Linked DNA regions of Homo sapiens. The protein of the gene in region 1 interacts with the protein of each later gene in a pairwise test. Each region holds a gene or a part of one and is shown on either strand. Other genes may lie near its edges. The genes, in order: MAP1S and KCNJ6.

Region 1 (3,092 bases):
GATGTTAGTTCTCTAAATGTTTAGTGGCTTCCCCAGGGCTTTTCTTTGTTGGGAGGTCGTAAGTTACTGATTCATTCTCCTTGCTAGCTACAGGTATGTGCTGATTTTCTATTTTTGTGATTGTGTCTTGGTAGTTTTTGTGTTTCTAGGAATGTGTCCATTTCGGCTGAGGGTATGCATTTGTTGGTATACAGACGGGGTAGTACTCTTACCCCCTGAGCTGGGCAGCAGCTGTGATTGTAAGATGCAGGGTCTGGCAGGCTTCTTGTGCCCGAGACCCAGCCGTATCCTTTCATTTCATTGATCATTCACTTGCCCAGGGCTGGTGGCCTTGTCCCCTTTGGCCCTAAGGTCAGGGTTTGGACAAGGCCCCCAGAGCTGCTGTCTCATCCGCATCCAGCATCCCGCAGTGATCTTGGGCCCGCCTCTCAAGGCTCTGTCCACCCACCCTGGCTCCCCATCACCCTTGGGGCAGGGATTCTGTCTGTCTTGGTCACAGCCCTGTTTCAGGGCCTGGTGCCCATGAGGTTCTGTTAAATGCCCCTTGAGCAAGTGAACCAGACAAATGCTGCAGAAGCAGCAGATGGTCCAGGCACTGGCTGCTTTCAGGGCTCAAACTCTTAAACCCTCTTCCAGGAAGCATTCCCTGATTGCCACCCACTCGCCCCCCAGCCCTGGGGATGTCTATGTCCAGGGACTGGCTGGGGATGAGTCAGGCTCTAGGCACAAAGGGGTGGCCGGTGGTGTTTGTAGAGTGAGTGAAGAGTCACTGGAGTCAAGGCGTGGTGACATGCACCTGTAGTCCCATCTACTTGGAAGGCTGAGGCAGGAGGATCACTTGAGCCCAGGAGTTTGTGACGAGCCTGGGCAGCATAGCGAGACCCCATTTCTTAAAATAAGATTCACTGGAGTCATGAGCGCACCAGGCCTCCCCAGAAAACTCTGAGTTCAGGCCTCCTGCTGAGGAGGGAGCTGCTCTGAGTGGTGCAGGTCGAACTTGGAGCCTCGGCCCCTCCCCAGCCCCAGGAGCTCATCCCTGCCTCCCCATCCCCCCGCCCGCAGGGTCAGCCAGCAGCCGGCCCGGGGTGTCAGCCACCCCACCCAAGTCCCCGGTCTACCTGGACCTGGCCTACCTGCCCAGCGGGAGCAGCGCCCACCTGGTGGATGAGGAGTTCTTCCAGCGCGTGCGCGCGCTCTGCTACGTCATCAGTGGCCAGGACCAGCGCAAGGAGGAAGGCATGCGGGCCGTCCTGGACGCGCTACTGGCCAGCAAGCAGCATTGGGACCGTGACCTGCAGGTGCGTGTCACCCCAGGGCCTCTGGTGGTAAGTGTAGTTAGCACAGATGGGTAAAACCACCCTCGACCCTCAGAGACTAAGCTGTGTTCCCCAGGCCACACGGGAATGGGGGCGAATGTGGGAGTCTCACATGGCTCAGCCCTTAGGGGTCTCTTCGGACTCTGATTCTGTCGTGTCACTGTTGTCATTGGCTGTGCTGGAAGCCTGGGGGAGGACGCAGGGCCTCGTGAAGCCTCATGGTTCTATCCCTTCCCCAGACACCTTGTCACTTAGCCATTGTTCCGCTGTGAGAATTAGTCGGGATGGAATAGGTGGGCTGGGTGGTATCTGTGCGGCTGAGAACCCTCCCCCATGGCTGCATGAAGCTGAGAGACTGAAACCAAGCCCTGCAGGGCGAGGTGCATGTGGGCAGAGGGAGGACCGCCTCACACCGCGGCCCCTGCCCTCTCATAGCTGCTAGGCTGGCTTCAAAGGAGTGTCCCTGTAGGGTGCACGACCCAGGAAAAGGCCCAGAGGTAGGAAAGAGGTTGGTGTGTTCAAGGAGCAGGGGGAGATCCAAGTGAGTAGAGAGGGGTCTCAGGCCAAGGAAGGCCTTGCAGAGGAGGAGCTCCGTCTCCTGTGTGCTGAGAAGGCTCTTTGGGTGCTGGTTGGGAGGAACAGGGACCTCACAGACGGGCTGACCACCCATTGCAGACCTCAAGGTGGAGCACACAAGATCAGGGAAAAGCCAGGAGGGGTCTCAAATGCCAGGAAAGGAAGGCGACTTGGGCCCAGGCCAGAAGGGCAGGGGGCACCCCCCTCACTGGTGGTCCACTCTCCCCACACACCCCCCCTCCACCTGCAGGTGACCCTGATCCCCACTTTCGACTCGGTGGCCATGCATACGTGGTACGCAGAGACGCACGCCCGGCACCAGGCGCTGGGCATCACGGTGTTGGGCAGCAACAGCATGGTGTCCATGCAGGATGACGCCTTCCCGGCCTGCAAGGTGGAGTTCTAGCCCCATCGCCGACACGCCCCCCACTCAGCCCAGCCCGCCTGTCCCTAGATTCAGCCACATCAGAAATAAACTGTGACTACACTTGGCTGTGGCCTCTCTTCTTTCTGTGATGGGAGACTTGGCATGTACCTCCTGGTCCTGCGGGTGGGGACAGCTTCCATGGAATCCCCAGTGACCCTGCGGTCAGGCCCACTCTGGCCTCCATGTCGCAGATGGGAGAAATGCAGGCTTCGCTGGGCCTGGTTTGGGGAAGGAAGTGCCTCTCAGAGTTAATGACCACTGACCGGTGGAGCTCCTGACTATGGCCTCCATCCCGACTCAGCAACTGTGAGGGGCCCAAGTTATAGGCGCGAAGTAGCTACCTGACTATCTGTCACACAAACCAGTTGGTGGCAGGGGGAGATTGAATACCTGTCTCTGCTCCAAAGCCATCAAACAAAAGCTATCCTGCTGTCCCTAGAGGAGATGGATGCTTATTCCAGAAAGTCTTACTCTGCAGGAAGGATTTACAGAGGAATCTGAAACCCAGAGATTACAGAATATCCACTTCTGACTAATGCACCCTGACCCCTCTCTGCAGAAATACAAGCACTTAGGTTTACTATTAGATACAATGTCATCTGTACTGGGTTGAATGGCAGCCAGCCCCCAAAACACATTCAACACCTGACCCCTGACACCTGTGAATGTGATGTTATTTTGAAAAAGGATCTTTGCAGATACAGTTTTATTATTTTTTGAGATGGAGTCTTGCTCTGTCACCCACGCTGGAGTGCAGTGGGGCGATCTTGGCT
Region 2 (3,117 bases), on another chromosome or scaffold:
ATTTAGACTCTTTTTTTTTTTTTTTTTTTTGCCTGTGGATGTGCAAATGTGCAGCTATTTCAACACCGTTTGTTGAAAAGACCCTCTTTGCCGCACTGTTTTGCCTGTGCTCCTTTGCCAAGGATCAGTTAACTATATTTGTGTGGGTCTGTTTCTCAGCTCTCCATTCTGTTCCACTGATCTATTTGTCTATTCCTTCACCAACACCACATCGTCTTGAGTACTGTAGCTTTCTTTCTCCATATAAACTGCAGACTCAGTTTTTTGGTACCAACAAAATAACTTGCTGAGATTTTTATTGGGATTGTATTTAATCTACAGAGGAAGCTGGGAAGTGACATCTTGACAATATTGAGTCCCTCCATGAAATGGAATATCTCTGTATTTACTTAGTTCTTCTTTGATATCATTCACCAGTTTTGTAGTTTTCCTCATGTAGATCTTATACATATTGTTAGATTTATACCTTAAGTACTTCATTTCAAGGGATACTAATTTAAATAATCATGTGCTTTTAATTTCAAATTTCACTTATTCATTGCCGGTATATAGGAAAACAATTGACTTTGTATATTAACTTTGAATCCTAAAATCTTGCTATAATCCCTTATTAGTTCCAGGAAGGTTCTGGGGCTTGTTTTTGTTTTGTTTTTTGGTCAGTTATTTCAGATTTTCTACATAGATGATCATGTCATCTGTAAACAAAGACAAAGTTTTATTTCTTCTTTCTTCCCAATCTATATATTTTTATTTCCTTTCCTTGTCTTATTGCATCAGCCAGGACTTCCAGTATCATGTTGAAAAGCAGTAGTGATGGGGACACCTTTTTTTTCCTGATCTTAGTGAGACAGCTTCAGGTTTCTCACCATCACGCCATTTAGTATGATGTTAGCTGTAAGGTTTTTTTTTTAGATATTGTTTATCAGGTTGAGGGGCTTCTCCTCTATTCCTGCTTTACTGAGTGTTTTTATCATGAAAGACTGTTTGGATTTTTCTGCATCTGTTGATATGATCATGCAATTTTTCTTCTTTTGCCTGTTGATATTCATTACATTAGTTGATCTTTGAATGTTGAACCAGCCTTATATACCTAGGACAAATTCCACCTGGTCATGGTGTTTAATTATTTTCATATATTGTTGGACTTGATTTGCTAATATTTTGTTGAGGATTTCTGCATCTATGCTTATGACAGGTATTGGTCTGTAGTTTTCTTGTAATGTCTTTGTCTGGTTTTGGTATTAAGGTGATGCTGGATTCATAGAATGAGTTAGCAAGTGTTCTCTCTGCTTCTAGCTTTTGAAAGAGATTGTAGATAATCAGTATCATTTCTTCCTTAAGTCTTTGGTAGAATTCACCAGTGAACCCATCTGGGCCAAGTGCTTTCTGGTTGGGGAGGTTACTAACCATTGATTCAAATTATTTAACAGAGATATACCTATTCAGATTGTCTATTTGCTCTTGTGTGAGTTTTGACAAATTCTATTTTTCAAGGAATTGGTTCATTTCATCTACATTATCAAATTTGTGGGTATAAAGTCATTCATAAAATTCCTTCATTATCTTTTATTATCCTTTTAACCTCCATGGGATTGCTAGTAACGTCCCCGCTCTCATTTCTGATAGTAGTAATTTGTGTTCTTTCTCTTTTTTTCTTAGTTAGCATGCCTTGAGACTTATGGAGCTTATTGATCTTTTCAAAGAATCAACTTTGTTTCTATTTATTTTATTGATTTCCTATTTTCAATTTCGTGAATTTTTAATCTAATTTTAATTATTTCTTCTCATTGGCTTACTTTGGGTTTAATTTGCTCTTTTTTTCTACTTTTTTAAAATGGAAACTTAAATGATTGATTTCAGATCTTCTTTTGTGCTATCTGCATTCAATGTTATAAATTTCCCTTTAAGCATTGTTTTTATTGCATCCCACAAATTATAATAAGCTATGTTTTTATTTTCATTTATTTCAAAATATTTTTTCACTTATCTTGAGATTTCTTCTTTGACCCATGATATTTACACGTGTGTTGTTTAATCTCCAAGTATTTTGGCATTTTCCAGCTACCTTTCTGTTACTGATTTCTAGCTTAATTCCATTGTTATCTAAGAGCAAACATTGTAGGACTTGTATTCCTTTTTTTTTTTTTTTTTTTTTTAAGACAGAGTCTCACTCTGTTGCCCAGGCTGGAGTAGAGTGGCATGATCTTGGCTCACTGCAACCTCTGCCTCCGGGGTTCAAGCGATTCTCCTGCCTCAGCCTCCCAAGTAGTTGGGACTACAGGTGCCCACCACCAAACCTGGCTAATTTTTGTATTTTTAATAGAGATGGGGTTTCAGCATGTTGGCCAGGCTGGTCTTGAACTCCTGATCCCAAGTGATCTGAGAATTTCTATTCTTTTAAATGTGTTAAGGTATGTTTTATGACCCAGAATGCAGTCTAACTTGATGAACATTCCATGCAAGCTTAAGCAAAAAGACTAATCTGCTGTAGTTTCCTCATCTTTTTCAACAAACATTTGAACCCCATAGTCTCTGCTTTAATAATTCTAGTATCCATTCCAACCTACACCACCATCAGTTCTAGACTGTACCTCTACACTAAATGACCCCAGATGGTTCAGCTTTAAGTCTCAGCTGTTTTCATCATTTAACTGATTCCCTTGCTGGCAGCAGGGAAATTAACTACCAGCCACACACTTGTCTCCAACAGCACCCACCGACCACGTCCTGCTCCCCTGTCATTACCACCACTAAACCCGGTAGCAGAGAGATGAGCTGTGAGGTAGGTGCCTTCTAGATAAATGAGGTGCTACTGGACATGCACTGTGGTCTTCTCTGCAGTAGAAAAATGTCCAAGGAAGGTCAGCATCATTGATAGAAAATAAATGTGAGGCTGCATCTCGCCAGCTCATCCATGAGCAATTCCTTCAGCTCCAGCAGGCTACTGACAATTTGCTTTTAACCCAAATCCAGCTCTACCCTCCCTAAAGCATGCACCTAGGGCCCCAGTCAGAAAAACAAAACAAAAACTAAACCAGACAGGATAATTAAGGAGGCAAAAAGCTTAAACCATAATATTTTAATTAAGCTGATTTATTTTAACCGTAGCACTACTGC

The links.
Region 2: the proteins of MAP1S (region 1) and KCNJ6 interact in a two-hybrid assay, tested with the Homo sapiens proteins (one large-scale study listed by BioGRID and IntAct).

Annotation. Positions count from the first base shown.
Region 1 is NC_000019.10:17,732,131-17,735,222, forward strand, and holds the end of MAP1S (microtubule-associated protein 1S), read left to right. Parts: intron 1-1,062; coding exon 1,063-1,298; intron 1,299-2,136; exon of another isoform or gene 2,137-2,142; coding exon 2,143-2,298; 3' UTR 2,299-2,383; downstream 2,384-3,092. UniProt on the Homo sapiens protein: Microtubule-associated protein that mediates aggregation of mitochondria resulting in cell death and genomic destruction (MAGD). Plays a role in anchoring the microtubule organizing center to the centrosomes. Binds to DNA. Plays a role in apoptosis.
Region 2 is NC_000021.9:37,609,638-37,612,754, reverse strand, and holds part of KCNJ6 (G protein-activated inward rectifier potassium channel 2), read left to right. Parts: 3' UTR 1-3,117. UniProt on the Homo sapiens protein: Inward rectifier potassium channels are characterized by a greater tendency to allow potassium to flow into the cell rather than out of it.